Linked DNA regions of Homo sapiens. The protein of the gene in region 1 purifies or fractionates together with the protein of each later gene. This does not show direct contact. Each region holds a gene or a part of one and is shown in the gene's direction. Other genes may lie near its edges.

The links.
Region 2: the proteins of PTPRF (region 1) and NAA50 fractionate together in Homo sapiens (co-fractionation; one large-scale study listed by BioGRID). This does not show direct contact.
Region 3: the proteins of PTPRF (region 1) and LRRC52 purify together in Homo sapiens (co-immunoprecipitation; one large-scale study listed by IntAct). This does not show direct contact.
Region 4: the proteins of PTPRF (region 1) and DNAAF5 fractionate together in Homo sapiens (co-fractionation; one large-scale study listed by BioGRID). This does not show direct contact.
Region 5: the proteins of PTPRF (region 1) and PPWD1 fractionate together in Homo sapiens (co-fractionation; one large-scale study listed by BioGRID). This does not show direct contact.
Region 6: the proteins of PTPRF (region 1) and ZDHHC5 purify together in Homo sapiens (co-immunoprecipitation; one large-scale study listed by IntAct). This does not show direct contact.
Region 7: the proteins of PTPRF (region 1) and ITM2B purify together in Homo sapiens (co-immunoprecipitation; one large-scale study listed by IntAct). This does not show direct contact.

The regions. Positions count from the first base shown.
Region 1 is NC_000001.11:43,537,383-43,540,882, forward strand, and holds part of PTPRF (receptor-type tyrosine-protein phosphatase F isoform 1 precursor), read left to right. Parts: intron 1-815; 5' UTR 816-895; intron 896-3,500. UniProt on the Homo sapiens protein: Possible cell adhesion receptor. It possesses an intrinsic protein tyrosine phosphatase activity (PTPase) and dephosphorylates EPHA2 regulating its activity.
Region 2 is NC_000003.12:113,715,958-113,719,103, reverse strand, and holds the end of NAA50 (N-alpha-acetyltransferase 50), read left to right. Parts: 3' UTR 1-2,646; downstream 2,647-3,146. UniProt on the Homo sapiens protein: N-alpha-acetyltransferase that acetylates the N-terminus of proteins that retain their initiating methionine. Has a broad substrate specificity: able to acetylate the initiator methionine of most peptides, except for those with a proline in second position.
Region 3 is NC_000001.11:165,561,000-165,564,457, forward strand, and holds the end of LRRC52 (leucine-rich repeat-containing protein 52 precursor), read left to right. Parts: intron 1-2,505; coding exon 2,506-2,825; 3' UTR 2,826-2,958; downstream 2,959-3,458. UniProt on the Homo sapiens protein: Auxiliary protein of the large-conductance, voltage and calcium-activated potassium channel (BK alpha).
Region 4 is NC_000007.14:757,699-761,198, forward strand, and holds part of DNAAF5 (dynein axonemal assembly factor 5), read left to right. Parts: intron 1-3,500. UniProt on the Homo sapiens protein: Cytoplasmic protein involved in the delivery of the dynein machinery to the motile cilium.
Region 5 is NC_000005.10:65,580,296-65,583,795, forward strand, and holds part of PPWD1 (peptidylprolyl isomerase domain and WD repeat-containing protein 1), read left to right. Parts: intron 1-2,742; coding exon 2,743-2,924; intron 2,925-3,500. UniProt on the Homo sapiens protein: PPIase that catalyzes the cis-trans isomerization of proline imidic peptide bonds in oligopeptides and may therefore assist protein folding. May be involved in pre-mRNA splicing.
Region 6 is NC_000011.10:57,685,114-57,688,613, forward strand, and holds part of ZDHHC5 (palmitoyltransferase ZDHHC5), read left to right. Parts: intron 1-3,394; coding exon 3,395-3,500. UniProt on the Homo sapiens protein: Palmitoyltransferase that catalyzes the addition of palmitate onto various protein substrates such as CTNND2, CD36, GSDMD, NLRP3, NOD1, NOD2, STAT3 and S1PR1 thus plays a role in various biological processes including cell adhesion, inflammation, fatty acid uptake, bacterial sensing or cardiac functions.
Region 7 is NC_000013.11:48,239,706-48,243,205, forward strand, and holds part of ITM2B (integral membrane protein 2B), read left to right. Parts: intron 1-3,500. UniProt on the Homo sapiens protein: Plays a regulatory role in the processing of the amyloid-beta A4 precursor protein (APP) and acts as an inhibitor of the amyloid-beta peptide aggregation and fibrils deposition. Plays a role in the induction of neurite outgrowth.

The DNA.
Region 1 (3,500 bases):
TGTATGTTGGGGTGTGTTCTTCCAGGCTGGGCTGTTTTCTTTGAACTCATTCATGCGTTCATCCACTCATTCAGTGTATGCTGACTGAGCACCTACTATGTGCCAGCTGTCAGCCAGGCGCTGGGGATACGGAAATGAGCTGGGCAGCCACAGTCCATGCTCCTATCAAGCTTATGGTAGTGACTCAGTAATTGTAAAAATATATAAATAGTCATGTTTGTGGTCACGGCTCCAAGCCAAGGTCCAGGCAGGTAGTCTGGGACATTGTGGAAGGCTTCCCTGAGAAAGTGCCACTGGACTTGAGATCCGAGGGTAAGTTGGCCAGAAGAGCATGGGTAGCCTGTGCCAGGCAGTGGCATTCAGCACTGGCAAGGCTGGGAGACAGGAAGAAATTTGGCACATTTGAGGATCAGAAGAGGAAGTTCCCGTTCTGGCAGGAGGAGAGCATGGGCAGGTAGGGCTGCAGAGGTGGGAGGGGCCGACTCTGCTTGGCTCTGGGGTCATGCTGAGGAGCTGGGCCACAGAGTCTACTGCTGAGGTCAGGGACTTGGTCTGTGTGGCTCACAGCTATATGGCTGGTGCCTGGAAGGACGCCCAGCACATAGTAGGTGCTTAGGGAGTATCAAAATGAATGAGCGAGGGAGTGAAGGGAAAAGATGGGCATTTTTACCAGATGGGGATGGTTCTACATGAACATTTCCATAACCTGCTTTTTTTTCTGCATAAACAGCAAATTTTTAATGTCTTTCTGTGTCAATACATATGCTGTTGTGATGAAATTCTTGATGTTTTCTCATGCTTTCCTTTCTGTCCAGGAAGGAGTGGAGGCCCTGGTGCCCGGCCCTTGGTGCTGAGTATCCAGCAAGAGTGACCGGGGTGAAGAAGCAAAGACTCGGTGAGTGTGCCCCACAGAGTGGCCAGGAGCAGGGGTGCACAGGGGTCCTATGGACCAGGCTGAGCAGCTTGGATTTGATGCAGGGTCAGTGGAGAGCTATAGAGGGGGTGTCAGCAGGGGGCATGACATGATCCAGTGTGCACTGGTGAGAGATTGTGGAGGCCTGGACCAGGGAGGCAGTGACAGAAGTGGAGAGAAGGGATGTGAGTGCTATTTAGGGAGGTAGAGTAGACAGGACGTGGTGAAGGATTGAATGTGGGGCATGAAGGAGGGGAGGTGTCAAGGATGGTGCCTGAGTTTCTGGCTGGAGTGGATGATAGAGGTGGATGGGGAATGACATACAGCTCGTCAGCTACTGTAGGTGTGAAATAGGCTTCCGGGTGATGTCCTGGGACTTACACCAGGATCTTTCTTCTGCTTCTCCATTCGCCACGTTTCTGTAGAAAAGACTGTTCCCATCGACTGTAGGTTGTCGTAGAAAGAGCTTGGTGCCTGCAGGATCTGGGCATGTCCTCTGCATCTCTTTGATGTCCCCTTGTTCTCCTCTCTGTCTGTTAGAAGCACAGAATGGGTGGGCTGGAGTTGCAGGGAATGAGGTTGGTAAGTTGGTTTAGAGTCAGCATCATGGGCCTTGGATGTCAGGCTAAAGACTTTAGACTTTTTCCTGAGGGCAATACAGCAGCATTGAAGGTTCTTAAGCAGAGAAGCAATATCCATGTGTTGATCTGTCCATTGCCCATCCGTTCATTCTTTCACGGAACACTGTCTGAATGCCTGCTGTGAAATAAAGTGGCAAACAAAAGTGCAGATTTGCATTTTTATGTGCTGAAAGGTGGCACTGGTCTGTGTGCGGGATGGGTTGGGAGTGATTGAAGGCAGGAAGCCCACCAAAGAGGCAGGAAGTGATGAGGTCTTACTAACACAGTGGCAGTGAGGATGGAGGCAGGTCAGATTCAAACTTATTGATGGGTTAGATGTGTGGGATGAGGACAAGGGAGCATTTAAGGAGGGTTTGCGGGCTTGGTGACTGACAACATGGTGGTGCTGTCCCCAAGACTGGACACCCTGGAGGAGGAGTGGAATTGGGGCAGATGAGTTCTGGTTGGGCCATCCTGAGCCAAGAGCTCGGTGGGTCTGTTCACCCTCTGTAAGCTCCTCGAAGGCAGAGCCTGTGACTCTCTTGTTCATCACCCTGCCCACTGAACATCTGGACGGGTGGCTGAACTAACAAGGCTGTGGAAGAGATGGGTCTGGCCTGGGTAGGGGAAGGAAATGTGTATGTCCTGGGTGTCTCCTGGGGTCCAGACCCTACGTTTGGTGAGATGGGCACTGGGGTTATGTAGAGGGTGCAGCAAGAGGGGCTGTGTCACAGGCTGGAAAGGTCAGATGGGGAGGGTGGGTGTAGGGACACTATGTGTCCCTTTGCCTCTCCATCCTCAGATGATGGTCTGACCTAACTCGAAGTCCAGTCTTGCCAGAATAGGTACCTGAAGGTGGAGCCCTCTGTCCTCTCGGGAGGCCACTAGCTGATGGCATGTCTGGTGGGGTGCAGATGGGGTGTGCTATAGGACCTGACTTCTGGAGGCTGGGTAGGGCTGATGTGGGGGTACAGGGGAAGATACTCTGAGATCCTGAGGCCAGGCGCCAGCAAATACAGGAGTTAAGCCAGGTTGGAGCTTCCTTGGGTACAAGGCCCAGGGTGCCCACAGGGGATTGGGTTCTGGGGCAGGGGCCAGGTCAGGCTCTAGGCTCAATTGGCAAAGGATCTTGTTGTCTGTGTTGGGGTTTCTCAGCCTCAGCACCATTGACATTTTGGATCAGATAACCCTTATTGTGGGGGCAGGGCTTGTTATTGTAGGGTGTCTAGCAGCATCCCTGGTTTCTTCCCCCTAGATGCCAGTAGCATCTCCCCGCTTTCCCCAGTCTCGACAATCAAAAATGTCTCCAGTCGTTGCGTAATGTCCCATGGGGGCAAAATTACCCTGAATTGAGAACCTCTGGTCTACAGCCTCTTGCTGCTTTCACTATACTGTACAAACCTGGAAAATTGGGGAGGGTCAGTGGGGAAGATGGATAGTGATGGGCCACTTGAGCAGAGTTCTGAGGGGTGAGTGAGTGCTGGGGCAGGAGAAGGACATTTTTTTCCAATAGACAGAACGGCAGGTACAGAGGCTTGGAGGCACAAAGTTGGGAAACAGTAATCCAAGGGGGACCCCAGCCCCAGAGGAAGGGGCCTGGAGGCTTAGGGGTTACAGCCGCAGGAAGATACCTCTGCTGGTCCCCTTTGGTCATTTGCCTCCAGAGTTAGTCTCCTGCTGACCCTTTGCCGCCTCCAAGTCTCTGCGACACTCCTCCTAATCTCCCCCTCCACTCCTCAGTGAGATGGAGAAACTGAGAGCTGCAACAGGGTGGGACTCAGTCCAGCTGGTGGGAGCCCCGATACCAGCCGTGGGAGGGAGGGCTGTTCCTGGCTCTGCTCACGGATTCTGGCCAACTGGCTGGAGGAGGGAAGGCGGCCTCACCCTCTTCCCCACAGGCCCCTCCTTCCCTGGGTCAGGGGTCCTGGCTGAGACTATAATTTATTCCCGTCATAATCCAGTGGTTG
Region 2 (3,146 bases), on another chromosome or scaffold:
AACTTAAAAAAATACTTAAATGGCTAAGTTTACTTGGTGCAGTTAAGAATTAAACTTGTCAATTTTAACATTGCTGTTACATCTGAAATAAACTTATGTGATGTTCTGGTAGTGATCTGTGATATCTGTAAATGTCAAAACTGTATTGTTGAATTCTGCAGCCAGCAACCGTACATACTCATTGTGTAGTGTTTCCCTTACTGCTTTTATTTACTTTCACATTTAAGATCTAATTTTAAAATCATTAAAATAGGCCAAGTGTAATTAAGGCATCCTAATTCAGATCTTCTGTGACTTGCTAGGTACAGTGCCCAATATCTACAATTCAGTTCCAATGAGAGGGAAAAAGTAAGATCCAAGGAACTGTCTTGCTGCTGTATTTTTAATGTAATTATTAGAAATACTTGACACTTTAGGCTGCAATCTAGTTAGTAATGTTTATTGGCTACAGACAACATATTCAGGTGTTTTGTTTTTCTTCCTTGTAAGGAAGGAGTACGGTAGTTCAATGAGTTGGGAATTGGCTTTTAAGCTTTTTATCAAACATGAATTTAAGATTTTTTCTTTAACAGAATTCAGTATTTAATATTTCTAGTCAAAATTGTTATAATTAGATTTTTGCTTTTTTCATTTAAGAAGCAATGAGTGATCCTTGTCTAGTGTGTCTCAGTTATTACTGTAGTTTAAAACAACAAACAAGTATTACCTTCCACAGTTCTGGATCAGGAATCTAGGAGCTGCTTAACTGGGTGGTTCTGTCTTGAGATCTCAGAAGGTTGCAGTCAAGCTGTTAGCCAGGACTGTACCATCTTGAAGCTTGACAAGGCTAGAGGAGCCATTTCCAAGATGTCTTGCTTACGTGGCTCTTGGGCTTCTGTTCCTCACTGTGTGGGTATCACACACAGTGCCTGATGCTCACGTGGCTCTTGGGCTTCAGTTCCTTGGGCACCAGTTGCCTGGTGGACAACTGGTATGTGGCTTCCCCTAGAGCAGGTGATATAAGAAAGTGAGCAGAAACCATACTTTTTTATGACGTAGCCTCAGGTGACATTATTTCTGCCATATTCCATGAGTCACACAGACCAACCATTGAATCAGCTTGGTATAGTGTGGGAGGGGACTGCACAAGGATGTGAATACTGGGAGGTGGATATCATTGGGCCCTCTAGGAGACTGGCTATCACTGCTCAGAGAAGATGCTGGGCTTCGTTGACTCCCAAGGTCAGGGTAGTTTTGGTTAGGTTGTGTTTTATTAGTCTCTAAAAGGAGTAGTTTTCTAAATGAGGGTTATAAAGCACTGCACTTTACAGTTATTCGGGATATAAAAGAAATAGTGGGTCTAAAGGCTGTGCTCTTGTGGTTGGGTTTTCAGTGGGGAGGGGAGACTAGTCTGTCTCAGACTGATGCTGTTCTCACTGATTTGAATATTTCTGGGAAATTGGATACTACAGTCACAAATAGGAACAGTAAGCCTATAGAAGTTTTTCAGGGAGTAAATATTTTCTATGGCAGTGTCCTGAATTGGTTCTCCCTTGCAAGACTGAACTGTAGGAACTTAGTCCTAGTTTATGATACAGCCAAGTAACATAGTCACATGGGAAAAAGAGCTTGAGTCAGATTTCTTAATGTGTGTTGTTAACTTGGTAGAACATTGAGAATTATTTAAGTCAGAGAACGATCTGTTACTGGGGCAGAAATTCTCAACCTTTTCAGTTCTCCAAAATTTAAGATACTTGATTTCTTAGGTAAAATGTTTTTGTTTTTGTTTTGGAGACAGAGTCTCGCTCTGTCGCCCAGGCTGGAGTGCAGTGGCGCGATCTTGGCTCACTGCAAACTCCGCCTCCCAGATTCAAGCAATTCTGCCTGAGCCTCCCAAGTAGCTGCGACTAGAAAGCGCATGCCACCACGCCTGGCTAATTTTTTGTATTTTAGTAGAGATGGGGGTTTCACCGTGTTGCCCAGGCTGGTCTCAAACTCCTGAGCTTAGGCAATCCTCCTGGGGCAGCCTCCCAAAGTGCTAGGATTACAGGCGAGCCATGGCGCCTGGCCAGTAAAATGTTTTCTATCTAGAATGAATCAAGGTATTTTCCTTGCTCAGTAGCTTCTAGAATAAGAAAAAAATAGCAGCAAGATCTGATTCAGAAATAGTTGGGAGCAGAAAGTTAATATGAAGGAGTTGCTACTTGTTAACAGCCTAGAGTTGAGATCTAGAAGAATTATTACCTTTTTAAATTTGTGATGAAAGCTTAAATCCAGCATTTGGGAAGTTACTCTATTGGCTGAACTATTTTGGAGTTTGTAAGCTTTGTATTAGATATTCCTGATTTAACTGAAACTAATTTGCCACATAGCTTTAATTTCATCCCAGTTTTACTTGTTTTACTGTCCTCAAAAACTCAAGACATCTGAACTCAAAGGATCTAAGCAGTATAAATTAAAGCACATGTTGAATCACTGTAGCTTTCGTAGGACATCTGATTATAATGCTTTTCTTTGTTTCTTTGTCCATACTGAACTTGTCTAGTTTATCTTTGAGAAACATTTGCTAGTATCAAAAATCTTCTGTAAAGATTTGAACAATCTTGAATTCTCCTTGTCACTAGCCATCTCTTCCCCTAAAGTATAATAAAACTGTCAGGTACTATATGTGTAATTGCTTATGCAGGTGAAATTTGAATACACAAACAGTAAATCCCAGTTCTCTTAGTAAGATGAAGGCTTTGTTATAGCACCTTTAAAACAATTTTATAACATCCTTCATTCTTATCACTTTCCTAAGTAAGAAACGATCTTCCTTTAGTGGATATAAAAGTTGTACATTGTTTCTGCAGATTTACTGGGTGCCTACTATTCTGAACTCTAGGGATACAGCAGTGAGCAAGGCAAAAAATATCTGTGACTTCTTTAAATAAAGGTAAGTAAAATTCTAGTTTAAGCAGAATTCATGTCTAAGTGCAGGTCATCCTATTTACTAAAATGAATCAGCTCCTTCAAGGATCTTGATTTTACCTTAATTTTGAATTCCCTACATTGACTTGTTTTCTCTAACATTGGCTCCAGTACAAACAAAAAGCCTTAATTCCCATAGGAGAACTGAGACTTACAAGTGGGAAAGGGAGTGCAAAACAGATACAAGTTCAGAATTT
Region 3 (3,458 bases), about 120 Mb from region 1:
TGGCCCCGAGCTGGGAAAAGGAAACAATGGAGATAGGGAGCCCGGGAGGGGAGAGCCCAAATCTTGGCAGTGACTGCGACTGGGAAGAGGGGGAGATAATTCAGTGGGAGAGAAACCCAGGCCTCCCTCCCAACAAAGCCACCCACATCCCTCACTTAGCAGCCTAACAATGCATTAAAATCACTGCCTAATTGCTCCTTTCAAAGTTAATGCTCCAAAATGGGGAAACGTGTGTGATGTTTAGTCTCATCTCTGCCGCCCAAGCTGCAATTTGAAAGCCCAATCTTTTTAAAAATAGAATGAGATAAACCCCCCTAGACACATCCCAGACCCTCCGAATCCCATGTTTGCCTTTCTCAAATACATCTTTCTTTGAAGATTCATGTGTCTCCCACAGTTTGGGCAGGTGACCTGAGCTCTCTCTCGATAGAATTCCTGGAGAGCTCCCAGGCGCCTCCCCTGCTCATGGGAGCCCCATGCCCAGGCCTCCTGGGCAAAGCCACAGAGGTCCTCAAGCCAGGCTGACTAGAAAGAGGTACAGAGGCATAATTGTGTTCCTGCAACTTCAGCCCTCAACTCCTTTCCCTCTACTTGAGAGCTCTCTGGTGGGGCAGGTTTGCCCTGAGGGCCACCATCCCACACTGTCTAGAGAGAGGCTTCTTCCTCTCCCTTCCTCTGTAATCATTACAAACAGTGGATATGACACAGTTCGTGCACTGGCTTCCCCTCTTGTGTCTAAAAGCTTGAGTCCTAAACAGCATTACACACTGCACACCATCTTCCTGAACAAAACAAAATGACTTTGCTGTAGGTGCATTGATACAGAAGCAAGAGGCAAGTATTGGTGTCCGGGTGAAGAGGACTGCTCTTTCCAGCCACCCATAAGCCCAAATGCCTTCTCCCCAGCCAACTTACTTCTGTACTTTTTCTTTGAATGCTGCTTCCAGCCCCCATTAGGATTTACCTAACTGAACCTGATTTTCCTAACATCCTGGGTCACCAAGGATAGTGATGTTTTCACTAGTCAGGCAGTTCCTGCCCTGAAGTTTAGAGGAAACTCCTCTCCACAATAGCTCCTGTTTGCAAATCCCACTTACGCAAAGCAAGCTCACACTGGCTTTCTGTCTTCTGTCTTCTATCTTCTATCTAGATTCTGCAGTTATCTAAAACCTTCAAGTTATGGGATCTCCTGAATCTCAGTTTCCTTATTTGTAAGACAAGGAAAATAATATTATGTGCATCAAGGTTATTATTAGAATTAAATGAGATATTTGTAAATAACTTAGTGCATAGTAAGCACTTAGCAAATACTGGCTGCTATTATAATTTTGATTATGGTTGTCTCAAGCCCTGAGCCGGAGCTCAGTGATCTAGTGTGTGCTGGATACATTCACCTGAGCACATCACACAAGCACTCAGCCTCAGCATGGAAGAGTATATGGAGTTAGAAAAATGTAGGGGCAGTGATAGGGCTCCGAGGATTCCGTGCTTGAGGCACAATCACCTGTGCCTTCTTACCTATGTCAGTCAGTTCTCTCAACTACCCTGAGAAGTGTCATTCTTTGCACTGGTAAGATGAGGAAACGGAATTCAGAGACAGAATCCGGTATCCTGCTGAAGTTTACAAAATTAGCAAGTAACAGAATCTGGATTAGAAGCCTGGCCTGTCTAGCTCCAGAGCCCACTTTTCTTTCTGTTATATAGTGAAGGCCATGGCGCTACATATGGGGAGGTGCTCAGAGAAGTAGCCAGGAAGCTGAGTCAGCTACTAAGACTGACTGAAGACTCATGTCGATGACATAATCAGCCAGTGATGGCCAACATCACCACCAAGAAGCAGAACTGCTTTCCCTATTGGCAACCTGTTTACCCTGGGCTCCCCTGACTTGCTCCGGGGGGAAAGTGGTGAGCGGGTAGAACACACAGTAAACATTTCAGGAGAATCTCGTCTCCTGAAGCCTATAGTTGAGTGGCTTGCAATGCTCTCGGGGGATGCTAGTGATGCCAGGTTGGACTCAGCTACTGCTAAAGAGAAAGGGACAAGGTGAAGGGAAAGTCGGGATGGAGGCAAGGGAGGGGCAAGAGGGAGGTGACTGGTAAAGAACAGAGAGATGTCAACACTCCATGGCAATCTTGCCTAACCTTCCAACCTCCCCACCCCTGTTGTGGCCTCTCCTTCCTTGAGCATCCTTAAGAAGCATTTTCATGGCCTGAATGCAGCAAAGCCTGGGGACAAGGAACAGTCCAGGCCCAGTACTTCTCAAACTCCAATGTGCAACAGATACCCTGAAGGTCTTGTTGAGATGCAGATTTGGATTCAGGAGGTCACAGGTGGGTCCTGAGATTCTGCATTTCTAACAAGGTCCAGGTGATGTCGATGCTGCTGGCCCACAGACCACACTTGGAGCACTGAGGGTGCAGATGGTCCCTCCTGATCCCCTTTGGCCTTAGGACGCTGGGAGTCACGCTGTTTCAGCACCCTGCCTGCTGTGTTTTTCTTCTTAGATGATCTAAATGCCACATGTGTGGAGCCCACAGAGCTGACAGGGTGGCCCATCACCCGGGTGGGGAACCCACTCCGATACATGTGCATCACGCACCTGGACCACAAAGACTACATCTTCCTGCTGCTCATCGGCTTCTGCATCTTCGCCGCGGGAACTGTGGCTGCCTGGCTCACAGGTGTGTGTGCTGTGCTCTACCAGAACACCCGCCACAAGTCGAGTGAAGAAGATGAGGACGAGGCCGGGACTAGGGTGGAAGTCAGCCGGCGGATTTTTCAAACCCAGACGAGCTCGGTCCAGGAGTTCCCTCAGCTTATTTAGTTGCCAGAGACCACTATCTTATGTGCCTCCCCCAGGCTCCCTGCTTTCTCTCTTGCCCTCCCCATCCCACCACCTTGGAGCTGTCATAGAGATTGAAACCTTCTAGTAAAATAAATAAAATCTCTGATGGCCATTTCACAGGTTGGTCCCTTCCCACTGCACCAGCCCGAGGATGATTCCTTGAGCTCAGCAGGATGGGGTAGAACAAAATCTAGAAACGTTGTTGGATGCACCTAAATACCGAGAAAGTCTACCCCAAAAGTAAGCCATCTCATGTTTAATAAGTACATATTATGTCCCCAAACTAAGTGCTGGAGGGATGGATACAAGGAATACAAGATTTAAGATCTTCCCTAAAGAGCAAACAATTTAAGTGGAAGTGAAGATTAATATTAATCAAATGGAGAAAAGTATAAGACAATGATAAGAACTAACATTAATGGAATGTGTCCATCCATGTACCATCTTCACACTCCATCTTGTAGTTATCACAGCCATCCTATAATATTGATATTATTTTACCGTGAAAATTTGAGGCCTGAACAAGTTAAACAACTGATTGAGGTCACCCAACTGGTAAGTAACACAGCCTCCCAAAGTCCATGTTCTTTCCTTTACATGAAATATAAATAT
Region 4 (3,500 bases), on another chromosome or scaffold:
TTCATTTGAAGGTGAGTGGTCCCTGTCAGTGTGTGTGTTGGACTCAGCACCCCAGATATTTCTGGGACACAGGGCTGCCCCCACCAGGCGGCCGTGCCATGCAGGGCGGGCCTCAGCTCACCCCTGGAGGCACTTGCTCCGGCTCGATCGTTTCCGGCGGCTTCTATGGCCCCAAAGCTGGCCTGGGGCACGGGGACTTGCCACTGTGCTCTCAGCCCGGCCTGTCCTGTGTCAGGCTCCCTCTCCGTCCTCAGAACGAGAGGTGGGGCTGTTGACAGTCATTTTTGTAAACTGTTTTAAGAAACCTGTAAGCAGTTCCTGGAATACATAGAGGGAAGGAAACGGAGCTGGGGTAAGGAAGGGAGCGGGGGAGGGGCCCGGGCCGCGTGCTCATGGCATTTCAGCCATGCTTCAGCTTTTCCCAAAACCCGTTTTTAACACATCATCGAATGTGTGTCAGTTCTCCACTTTCCTTCACCCACGAGGGGTTATGAGGATGCCTTTGATTTCTGTATACAGATTTGCAAGCCAGAAGCATTTTTTCCTAGAAGGGCATAACTTGAAAATGTGCACAGGTGCCTAAATCCTTATCTCACAAACTTTATAGCAAAGAAAGTGTAGTTTTCACATCTCCATGTTGGTTACAGGAAAACGGAATTGTGTCATCCCACAGTTGTGCATTTGGCTCCCCATCTTCCAGTTTTATCGAGGAAAAATTTAATCACAATCTTTCAAACAGAGACGTCTTTCTGACAAAGTCCAGTCACACGGGACCCCTGGGAAGCCAGCCTCAACCTTCCAGGCTGCGAACGTGTGTCGGCCCTTTGGCCAAGGAGCCAGTCACAGTGAAAACCCAAGACGTACATTTCACTCCTTTCTTGTTTTTATTTTTTTGTTTTAGGTTGATCCTCCCACCTCAGCCTCCTGAGTCACTGGGACTACAGGTGTGCACCACCACACCTGGGTAATTTTTTTTTATTTATTTTTATTTATTTACTTTTTGGGACAGAGTCTTGCTCTGTCACCCAGGCTAGAATGCAGTGGCGCAATCTTGGCTCACTGCAGCCTCCGCCTCCCAGGTTCAAGCGATTCTCCTGCCTCAGCCTCCCAAGTAGCTGGGATTACAGGCATGCACCACCACACCCGGCTAATTTTTGTGTTTTTAGTAGAGACGGGGTTTCTCCATGTTGGCCAGGCTGGTCTTGAACTCCTGACTTCAAGTGATCAGCCCACCTCGGCCTCCCAAAGTGCTGGGATTACAGGTGTGAGCCACCGCACCTGGCCCCATTTTACTCCTTAACAGACTTAAATTTTTGGCAAGAAAGGGTGAAGGTACTCAGGTCTCAGTCAGAATCAGGCCCGTGGTTCTGTGCTCTTCCCACGCCCCTGTGCTCTTCCCGCGGCCGGCCGGGCTTTGTGTCATGTCATTTGGGAAGTCGATTATGTTTCCCACAGCTATTCTCCAGTAGCTATGAGAACAGGTTGAAAATGTCTTTCAAGAACAAACCGAAATTGTTTTAAAAGCTCGTGTTTAAACAGAGAAGTCCGTGTAAATGTATTCTAAACTGAGCCTGGCTTCACTCCCTGCCCTGGGGTTCACAGGAAATCTGGCTTTAGCAGTAGGTACTTCCAGGTGTCTCGGGCCCAGTAGGTCCCCTAGAGCTCGACAGACGGGAACTGGAGTCTCCTGGGAAGGAGTTTAGGACAGGTGTCTAGAGTGAGGAAATGGGTAACTCACCGATTTGCTTCTCACACAGGGAAGCCAGCAGTTGTGGGATGCCATTGCCATTGTTGAAATAGGAGTCTCTTGTGCTTTTCTGAATTAAAAACCTTTGCAGTCTTAGATAACATTGTTTCAGAAAACAATGTTTGAAATAGTATTTCAAAAAATACTGAGAATTATTTCCTGCTGTATCTTTTTTCTTTTTCGTTCTGTGTGTGTGCGTTGTATGTAGGCAGACACTGAAAATTGTCTGGTCAAATATAGAGAAATCTATAAATGTGAAGTCTTGTCACTTCCTCAGAGACGGTGCTGCGTTCGTGGCAGGAGGGTGGTGCTTGCTGCAAAGGATGCCTGATTCCCTGTTTGTTCCTGTGCTTGGAGGTGTGGTCAGCCAGGAGGGGCTGTGTCTTCTAAACGCACCTGCCTTTTGATTTTAACCGAAAAGATGATCGCTCCTGAAATGTACATGACAGGTCATTCTAGAAACTAGCCAGATATTGTCCTCAGAAGTCAGCCAGTTAGTACAGGCCTTAGAGAAATTGGGCTGTGGGAAAAATCAGGAATGGAATAAAAACAAATCTGTGGCTTCTGTGGGAGTTGGGGCCACGACAGGGCCACACGGCTCCTCCAGCTCCGAGGGAGACGGGGCCGCGCGGCTCCTCCAGCTCTGAGGGAGACGGGGCCGCGCGGCTCCTCCAGCTCCGAGGGAGATGGAGCCATGCAGCTCTGTGTCTTCTGTGGGTCAGGGCGGGGCCGGGGTGCAAGGACAGAACGCTGCTGTAGTACAGTGGGAGTGTTTTGTTTAGTCTTCCATGATTTACGTCAGTGGGGAATGAGGCTTAGAGTTTTAGAGCTGATTAGGAAATTTAGAACCAACCCATTGTCTAGCCAAATAATTACCAAACTTCTTTGAACTTGCACCCCCATTAGTAAAAACAGTTTTTAAGCATAGGCCTCCAATATATGTACACTGTTGATAAATCACGTGTTTAAATTACATGGCCACGGTCCTGACTCACTCTGTACTTTATGAAACATACATAAAATAGACATTAGAGGGACGTTATAAGAAGTAAATACAGGCCAGGCGTGGTGGTTCTTATCTATGATCCCAGCACTTTGAGAGGCCACGGCAGGAGGATCACTTAAGGCTAGGAGTTTGAGACTGCAGTTAGCCACGATTGCACCACTGCACTCCAGCCTGGGCGACAGAGCAAGACCCTGTCTCTAAAAAATAAGTTAAAATTTATTTAGAAAGAAGTAAGCACACGCAAAGCCTTAGGAATTCTTGGGTCCAGCACACGCCTGCTGTGTTGCGGGCTTCAGAGCCTGGCTGATTCACAGTGGATGAGGCTGGAGCCGGGAGGGGAAGCCATTCATCCAGCGCAGCCGTAGGTGCAGAGCTGAGACTCCACCTCCCCGTCAATCAGTAAACATGTTAAGCCATAGAATTTTATTTGTCTTAAAACTTGGTGTTATAGAAAAGCTCAAAAATGCACAGAAGAGGGGCAGGCAGCAGAGCGACTGCCAGCTTCAGCGCTGACCAGCCCTTGGCATGCGTGTTCTGCCTGCCTGGGGCCACTTTTCTTTTTAACTTTGGAGGGCGGGGAGAACTTGGGCATGTTGTAAAGCAGATAATGCAGTGCGCCGTCATTTCCCTCACAGGTGCCGTGTGCATCACTAACGCAGCTTCTCCACCACATAGCTCAAGTGCCTGTTCACATTTCACAAAATAAGCACAGATTCCTTAGCTCCCAGTCTGTGTTCAGTTTTCCCA
Region 5 (3,500 bases), on another chromosome or scaffold:
CCCTTTAATGGTGCCCCAGCTATCTATGCTGGCTGGCCCTCCTCACTTCTGTAGCTTTATCTTTCTTCATTTTTCATTCATTTGCTACACGAACCATACTGAAAGTTCACATGTAGTTGAGTGTGCTTTTTAAACTCTGGGCCTTTGCACAGGCTATTCATTCTACCAGCCACACACCTCTCTCCAACTCCTAACTCATACTTCAAGTTTCAGTTTGGAAGCCCCTCTGTTTTTTGGAGATGGCATCTTGCTCTGTTGCCCAGGCTAGAGTGCAGTGACGTGACTTCAGCTCACTGCAGCCTCTGCCTCCTGGGTTCCAGCAATTCGCCTGCCTCAGTCTCCTGGGTAGCTGGGATTATAGGTGCATGCCACCATACCCAGCTAATTTTTGTATTTTTAGTAGTGACAGGGTTTCACCATGTTGGCCAGGCTGGTCTCGAACTCTTGACCTCAGGTAATCCACCTGACTCAGCCTCCCAAAGTGCTGGAATTACAGGCGTGAGCCACCGCACCCAGCCTGGAAGCCCTTTTTAACATCAAGTCTGAGTTAGATGTGCCTGCTATGTTTCTCTTATGCTTCCCCTGTCATATGATGTGTCACACTTTTTGTGTGAACATCAATAATTTATTTTTTTGGCCTCTGACGCTGTGCTCTTCTTCTGAAGATAAAATCCATAAATACAGGCACTATGTCTTCTTCACTGTTAAATCCAGAAAGTTAGGAAATGACTACAGCATTACAGTATATTCATTCATTCCTCCAAAACATTGTAAACTGATGTAATGCTATTAAGGTTAACAGCATTTGATAAATGTATGAAATAGCAGTTTCCCTACCCCAACCAACCTTCCATCTAAATGGGTAAATACTTTTAAGATGAGAATTTCATTTACACCTTTCAAAATTATTACTAAAAATTTATTAGTATATGAAGGAAAAAAATTAATCGTTTTACCTTTAATTTAACTTTGTTAGGAAGTAAAAATTACCCATAAAAGATAATTCTTGGCCAGGAATGGTGGCTTATCCCTGTAAAAACAGCACTTTGCGGGGGCCCAAGCAGAAAGATCATTTGAGCCCAGGACCAAGACCTGCCTGGGCAACATAGCAAGACCTCATCTCTACAAAAAATTTAAGAAGCTAACCAGGCATGGTGGTGTGCACATGTGGTCTCAGCCATGCTGGAAGCTGATGTGGTAGGATCTCTTGAGCCAACGAATTCAAGGTTGCAGTGAGCTATGATCACACCACTGCACTTCAGCCTAGGTGACAGAGCAAGACCCTATTGCTAAACAAAAACAGGCAAAAAAGGATATTTCTTGATATACACTCAAAACACATACACTAATTTTCCATCCACTTTATTCAAAAAACTTATATTTTTTCTTTTCCAAGTTTACTTGTGTGTTGATCAAAGTATATATATTCATTATAAAGTTTGAAAAAATAGAGAAACAAAATAAGTCATTCACTGTAGCTTTATACAGCTAACATTGTTACGAATTTTCTTTGAGTCTTACTAGTACATATTCTTAAGCAAAACTAAAATGGTATGCATATATATGAATTTTGTGTCCCATTTTTCAGATCCAACATGAAATAAAAGTATAATTTTACAAATCCATATATGAGCTAAATCATAATTTTTCAGATCCAACATCATGAAATAAAAGTATGATTTTACAAATCCATATATCAGCTAAGTCATAACTTTAAAAAATTCATATAAACAAATAGTACAACAGACATGCCATTCCTTTGAAAACTGGAGAATAGGATGTTAAGGTGATAGCATCCTAACTTGGTTGTTTATTTGGAATCTATCCAAGCAGATCAAGGAATGACATTAGGCAAGATAGGGATGGAGGCACTAGCTTTACGTTCCCATAATTAAGTTACATCAGATAGAGGTTGCTTAGGAGAGAGCATTTCTACTTAAAGAAACAGGCCTTGAGAAGTCCAGAGTTTTAACAACTGAAAGGTTTTTCTCAATTCTTCCTAGACCCCAAGGATCTGAGATTTCTACAACTTCACTGAAAATTTGCATTCTTTCTCCTATGCTTCAGGGTTTAGATTCTAGGTCAGTTGGGACTGTGAAAAAAAATTAAGGATCCATTTCAGATTCATTTTTGTGAATCCTTATTCTACCTAGCATGGGGTCCTGCTCATAGTAGTAATAACAACTGTTAATATGTATATAGTACCCTCTATGTATTAGGCACTGTTCTCCAAGGACTTAATATCTATTCGTTTAATCTTCACAACTACCTTCATTGCAAGGTATGTACTGTTATCATCATATATGAGTGAGGGAAGAGAAGAAATGAATTCACATCCCCAAAGTCGCAGAACTGGAATTCAAATCCAAACAATCTAAATAATGAACTGAGCAACAAACAGGTGGCATGTTAGGCCTTACTAGAAGGCATAAGTCGAGAGCTACCACAAATGAAACAATTATTCTTGTTAAATGTTTGCCCAAGAAAATTTCTAACCAAAGAAATTAAATTCCATTTGAAATCAATGTGTTCAGTATGTTATGTGGATCCTTTTCATATTAGACAATGTAAAAATAATTTAATTGCCTGACACATCCTGTATGGGAAGTGATTCCTGAAATAAGGATTCTGATGTGAATTCTTACATTTCTTAAGTACTTCATTAGAAATTCTATTGTTCATAAAATTTTTACCAGATGAAAACTTTAATTCGTTGACTCACTTTTTACTTTCCTCCTTGAGTTTACCAAACGAGAACCAGAAGATACGAAAAGTGCAGATTCTGATCGAGATGTTTTTAATGAGAAACCTTCTAAAGAAGAAGTCATGGCAGCTACTCAAGCTGAAGGACCTAAACGAGTTTCGGACAGTGCCATTATCCACACCAGCATGGGAGACATTCACACCAAACTTTTTCCTGTTGAGTATGTATAACAACTGTTTTTATTGGCTTATGTAATTAAGAATGTAAATGTGTATATCTGAAGAAACCATGCAACTTAAAATTCCCGTTACTTTGACTTAAGGAATTTTGAAGAAACGTTTGATAAAAAACATCTATTCCTGAGCTTTCTGATAAGTGTTACGGTAGAAAATGGGAAATTTTTATGCATATATACTTTATAGGTTCATTACGAGGACAAAATGTATTGGCTATGAAAGTGCTGAGTGTAAACTGTAAAGTGATACACAAATGTGTATCACTGTTACTGTTAACAGCACATCTGAACTCTAGGTTTTGTGGATTGCTTTGCTTTCCTCTCAAAGCAAATCCTTAAGAGAAAGATAATTATGTTTCCTTACCAACAGTTGCTAGATACCTACTATCTCTTTATAGTTTCAGTAGCTCTGTGTTTTAAAAGTGAACTACAAGCTGGGTGCAGTGGCACGCACTTGTAATCCCAGCTATTCAGGAGGTTAAGACAGGAAGATCAGTGGAGGCCAGCAGTTTGAGACTAGCCCGAGCAACACGGCAAGACTCTATCTCTTAAAAAAAATTT
Region 6 (3,500 bases), on another chromosome or scaffold:
CTCCAGCCTGGGCAACAGCAAGACTCCGTCTCAAAAAGAAAGAAAAAAAGAACTTCATTGTGCTCCCAAAGCCTACATCATTGTGCTTTGTTTGTGACTTCCCTTCAAAGATTGGGTGAGGGAAAAGAACTTTGTGTCCCTAAAGCCAAGAAAGGCTATTTTAATGAGCCTTTAATGTTCATTCATCAAATATTTATTGATGTATTATGGAAGGCACTATGATGGTCATTTGGGGTTTTTAAGAAGGTCATTGCTGGCCGGGCGTGGTGGCTTACGCCTGTAATCCCAGCACTTTGGGAGGCCAGGGCGGATCACTTGAGGTCAGGAGTTCGAGACCAGCCTGGCCAACATGGCGAAACCCCGTCTCTACTAAAAATATAAAAATTAGCCAGGCATGGTAGTGCACGTGCCTGTAACCCCAGCTCCTTGGAAGGCTGAGACAGGAGAATTGCTTGAACCTGGGAGGTGGAGGTTGTGATGAGCCGAGATTGCCCCATTGCACTCTAGCCTGGGCGATAAGAGCAAAACTCCATCTGAAGAAAAGTAAATAAAAAATAAAAAGGTCATTCCTTTCAAATAGCTCAGACTAGAAAGGAAGATAGGAAGACACCTCTATAAACAAATACACCGTGGGCCGGGTGCCGTGACTCACGCCTGTAATCCCAACTCTTTGGGTGGCCCAGGTGAGTGGATCACCTGAGGTTGGGAGTTCGAGACAAGCCTGACCAACATGGAGAAACCCTGTCTCTACTAAAAATACAAAATTAGCCGGGCGTGGTGGCGCATGCCTGTAATCCCAGCTACTCGGGAGGCTGAGGCAGGAGAATCGCTTGAACCCGGGAGGTGGAGGTTACTGTGAGCTGAGATTGCGCCACTGCACTCCAGCGACAGTGTGAGACTACATCTCAAAACAAACAAACAAAAAACAAATACATTGTGTAAGAGTAATCAAAGAGATCACTTCTGGTAGATGATGATGTAGAAGGATCAGACATTTCAAAATAAGGAGCATTGCAACTGGGCATGCTGGTGCCCACCTGCGGTTCCAGCTACTTGGGAGGCTGAGGTTGGAGGATCAGTTGAGCCCAGGAGTTCAGGGCTGCAGTGAGCTGTGGTCGCAGCACAGCACTCCAGCCTGGGTGATAGAGCAAAACTCTCTTAAAAGAAAAATAGCATTTGAATTTTTTCCCTTTAAAAGAAAAAAATCTTTTTTTTTTTGAGACAGAGTCTCACTCTCTGTTGCCCAGGCTGGAGTGCAGTGGCTCCATCTCGGCTCACTGCAAACTCTGCCTTTCGGGTTCAAGCAATTATTCTACCTCAGCCTCCCGAGTCGCTGGAATTACAGGAGCGTGCCACCGTGCCTGGCTAATTTTTGTATTTTTAGTAGAGATGGGGTCTCACCATGTTGGCCAAGCTACTCTGGAACTCCTGACCTCAAATGATCCACCTGCCTCACCCTCCCAGAGTGCTGGGATTACAGGCATGAGCCACTGTGCCTGACCAAAAGAAAAAATCTTTTATTTAAAGATTTCAATAAGTAGTGCACATTCATTATGTACGAAGTACAAAAAAGGCAAAACATTACCTATAATTTCACAGACCAGAGCTAACTACTGTTATATTGTGGTATATATCCTTGCAATATTTTGAAGACTTAAAAAATATATGTGTATATTTATGTATACCATGTATCTGCAGTATATATTTGTGTGTGTGTGTGTTTTTTTTTTTTTTCCAGACAGTGTCTTACTCTGTCACCAAGGCTGGAGTGCAGTGGCATGATCTTGGCTTACTGCAACCTCTGCCTCCCAGATTCAAGCCATTCTCCTGCCTCAGCCTCCCAAGTAGCTGGGATTACAGGCGTGTGCCACCACCCCTGGTTAATTTTTATATTTTTTGTAGAGATGGGGTTTCGCCATTTTGGCCAGGCTGGTCTTGAACTCCTGGCCTCAAGTCATCTGCCCTCCTTGGCCTCCCAAAGTGCTGGGATTACAGGCATGAGCCACCGTACCCAGCTGTACAGTTCTTTACCTAGCATTTCTTGTGATGTAAATATGAAAAAATGCTATGTAAAGAAATCAGTAAAATTTGAAAACTTAATTTTTAATTCCACACTATCATCTATTTAATTTTTCCTTCCCACATTTTTTTTTTCTAGGTTAATAATAAAAATTGCTCTGGGTGCGGTGGCCCATGCTTGTAATCTTAATACTTTGGGAAGCTGAGGCAGGTGGATTGCCTGAGCTCAGGAGTTTGAGACCAGCCTGGGGAACACGGTAAAACCCCGTCTCTATTAAAAATACAAAAAATTAGCTGCCGAAGTGGCGTGCGCCTGTAATCCCAGCTGTTTGGGAGGCTGAGACAGAAGTATCACTTGAACCCGGCAGGTGGAGGTTGCAGTGAGCCAAGATCACGCCCTTGCACTCCAGCTTGGGTAACAGAGCAAGACTCCGTCTCAAGAAAAAAAAAATTGCTAACTGTATATGAGAAGGCAAATAATGTCTTTTAAGTTTTGAAATGGGATGGTGGGTTTCTGATAGCTGAAAATTGAGAGAAAGGGCATTTATGCTTGTGCAACAAATAATACTGAAATACGTATATGTAGAGAAAATTCATAGAGTAGGGGAAGACATTTTGGGAAAGTTTTTTTTTTTTTTTTTTTTTTTTTTAAGATGAAGATGAAGTCTTGCTGTGTTGCCCAGGCTTGAGTGCAGTGGCGTGATCTCAGCTCACTGCAACCTCCACTTCCCGGGTTCAAGCGATTCTCTTGCCTTAGCCTCCTGAGTAGCTGGGACTACAGGTGCATGCCACCACACCAGGCTAATTTTTGTGTTTTTAGTAGAGACGAGGTTTCACCATGTTGGCCGTGCTGGTTTTGAACTCCTGAGCTCAGGCAATCCGCCCTTCTCGGCCTCCCAAAGTGTTGGGATTACAGGCGTGAGCCACCATGGTTGGCTGGGCAAAGGATTCGTGCCTGGAAAAAAAGGTTGATGTTAGTTCCTCTCTTGGATTGCTATAGTTCACTCATATAAATGTAGATACTGAACTCTTATGCAAACTCATTATGTATGTGCTTTGATATGTAAACTATTTCTTTAAAATATATTCATATACTTAAACCAAATAACACCAGCAGATGCATACAAGAGCTACCTCTTGAGTCATTTTATCTCGAACCTCACTTCCCAATGCAGAATAAATTGCTCCCTCATCCATGTTCCCATAGTGTTGTATAAAGACCTGACCTCACAGTCTTATAGTTCCTAGTTCCTAGTCTCACTCATTAGACTGTGAATTCCTCAAAGGCAGAAGCTATATTTTAAACATCATTGAATCCCTAGCACTTACTACAGTTCTGGCATAGTTGTTTTTAATTGACTTTTCCTCTCTACAGCTGAGGAGGATGAGGACAAGGAAGATGATTTCCGAGCTCCCCTTTACAAAACAGTGGAGATAAAGGGCATCCAGGTGCGCATGAAATGGTGTGCCACCTGCCGCTT
Region 7 (3,500 bases), on another chromosome or scaffold:
AGGCAAGCTAAAAATCAGTACTATTTTAATTTATACAACAATTTTAGCCCAAAACACTGAAGGCATGGGCCACTATTTTATAATCTCCTTTAAAGTGGAACGCAGGACTGGCAAATTATAGCCTATATCTTCAAATACTGCCTGCCTGCTGTTTTTCTGTAGCCCATGGGGTAAGAATGATTTTTATATTTTTTAATGGTTGGGAAAAATATCAAAGGAATGATATTTCTCCTTTTTGCCCAGTACCCTCACTGAATTGTTGGGGAGGGGCTGCTGCTATTCAGGAAGCAGCAGCACTAGCAGAATTCAGGTTATACAGTCATTCTTCAAAAGATTTAAATTTTGTCTCTATCACTTACTTTGATACCTTGGGTAAGTTACTTCAGTTCTCTGTGTCTCAGTTTTTTCATCAGCAAAATAGGGAAAATAATAATCTGTAACAATAATAGCACAATGCCTGGAACAGAGTTAAAAATTAGTAGATTTCAGCTACTGTTATTTTTATTTATTTTTTTGTTGAGAAACAGTCTTGCCCTGTCACCCAGGCAGGAATGCAATGGTGTGATCTTGGCTCACTGCAGCCTCTGCCTCCCGGGTTCAAGTGATTCTCCTGCCTCAGCTTCCCAAGTAGCTGGGATTACAGGCACCTGCCACTATGCCTGGCTAATTTTTTGTATTTTTAATAGAGACGGGGTTTCACCATGTTGGCCCGGTTGGTCTCGAACTCCTGACCTCTTGATCAACTACTATTATTAAAGTCCCAGTTTTCTCTCCTCATCATTCTTGTTTTGGAATATTACTTCTTATATTACTGTTACTGCTTATCCCTGCCTCACATGTCAGTAACAATATTGTTGGTACTTTTTTCACAGCAAGGCATTCTGGTAAAGATTGATTCCTGCAACATAAAAACCCTTAGGATTCAGTAGCTGTACCGATTTCATTTAAAAATGTTATTTATTCATTACATAATAGGTGTTAATAGAATTTGAGTTTTACCAAAGTAATACTAAATTTTAATATGCAAATATATAGTCCTGCCCTATGTCAGAGGAACATACTTTAAAAAAATTGTAGCATCATTGTATACAGTAAAATGCATAGATCATGAGTGTACAGTTAGATAATTTTAAGTCTGTATACCTGGGCTCTAACTCCCAATCAAGCTGAACATTGTTATCAACTCAGAAAGTTATCTTGTGTCCTTTTACAATTTGTTCTCCTTAGAGGTAACCACTATTCTAATTTTTCTCCCCATAGATTAATTCAAAGCAATCATATTCACTTATTAGCTTCTTATGGTCTTTTATTACCATGGTGACCACTAGACCCTCTTCTGCCTTTGTGCAATTTAGAAAAAGATCCCCTCTCTGGTGGTTTGGAGAATAGAGCATCAGTTGGTTTCTAGACCTACTGATTCCCTTGGCCTGGCATCCTTGTACTGGAAACAACCTGCCCAACCATACATGGCGATCTTAACTCCATGTTTCTCACTTTTTGCCCCAGTAGGGCGTGGTGCGGCGGGCAGCAGAGTCTTGCTCTGTCACCCAGGCTCGAGTGCAGTGGCATGATCTCGGCTCACTGCAACTTCCGCCTCCCAGGTTCAAGTGATTCTCCTGCCTCAGTCTCCCGAGTAGCTGGGATTACAGGTGCCCACCACCACTCCCAGCTAATTTTTGTATTTTTAGTAAAGACGGGGTTTCACCATGTTGACCAGGCTGGTCTGGAACTCCTGACCTCAAGTGGTCCACCCACCTCGGCCTCTCAAAGTGCTGGGATTACAGGCTGAGCCATAGCACCTGGCCCTCCATGTTTCTCTTTTAACTCCCTATTTCTCTAAATCAGTGGTTGTTAAACATTTTGCTCTGAGAACTCCTTTATAGTCTTAAAAATTGTTCAGGATCCCAAAGAGCTTTTGCTTTATGTAGGTTATATATATTTCCAAATAACCAAAAAGATTTAAGAAGACTAACAGTAACATTGTTTTACATTCGGCAGTGCCCTTTATTGAATAGCTTAATAGAAGATAGCCGGATTTTCCTATCAAATTCTTCATTCAGTCTGTTGTGATATGGTGCTTAGCTTCTGGAAAATTGCACTGTACAATTTTTATTGTATATAAACATAGCGAGAGAATGAAAGTGAAAATGACAGTTTTATTATTTAAACTAACACAGTCTTAGTTTTATTATGAAAAAAGTTTGACCTTGTGGACCCCCTGAACGGGTGTGTTCCTGGACCACATTTGCAGAACATCTATTCTAAATATTTGCTTATACTGCTGTTTCATGGTTTGTTTTCATTTGTTTTATTTTTTGCAGTTTTAGATAATACCTATTGATAATAGCTACATGGAAGGTGAATATTTAGCTTTTTCTGAATATTTACACACTGCACACATGATCTCTTCTCCTGTTCTAGCAATTTCTGGTTAAATTGATATTTAGTGTTTTTTATTATAATTAACATAAACATTAGTTACATTTGAGTATTGTAGTATACTTTTATTTTACTTCCATTCTTGTATAACAACTTTTTATTTTCCCTGAATTTGATCATGCTTCTTGGGGCAGGAGAGAGGGTTCCTTAATTTTCTACATACTTACTGCTCATTCATTCCTCAGACTCTGACAGCAGTATAATTGTCTTTCTGTGTCTTCAAACTCACCAGGTAACTTACCAAGTTTCTTTCTTTCTTTCTTTCTTTTTTTTTTGATGATTTCTTGCCCATCATTCATTAGTTTTCTATTCCAGACTGGTTGCACTCATACAAATGTCCTGAGAGTCATAATCATCTTGGAAGAATTGCCTTTGTCTTTATCACATGCTAGATCTACAGTTTCATAAATCTGAAGAAAAAGATAAATTTTTAAAAAATCTTACGTGTCTCAGAATCGTTATTCCATCCTCATATTTGATAATTTATCTGGGTGTAAAATTCTAGGTTAGCATTCATTTTTCTCTCAGCATTTTGATGGCATTGCTCCATTATCTTCTAATGTGATGCCATTCTGATTCCTTGTTTGTACATGACTTTTTTTCCCCCTTTGGTTGTCTACAGGCTGGTGATTTTCTCCTTATATCTTTTTTTTCTTTTTTCTTTTATGCTTTCAGCTTTCAACATTTTTATTGACATGACTTGTCTGCTGTCATTCATTTTCATTCTTTGTGGCTTAAGGTTTATTTGTTTTATCCCTTTACTGTCGCTTTATTGAGCTTTCAGGAGGAAGTAAACAAACATTTCACTGGAAATCAATATTAGAACTTCAACTTAGCTATCTTGATAGCTTTTTAAAGATTTGTTAGAATATTTCCTTTTACATTAAAAATTGACTTAATGATAATTAATAATGGATAATAATGGAAACCATCTGAATTACCATTAGCATTAATTTAAGATCAGACAGGATGGTCTAGAAAGATTGATGAGGCATCCTCTGATCGTCCTCTTCAAAGTTCCAAGATTGTCTCCTTCATGAGGAATTTTAGAGGCAACTCAT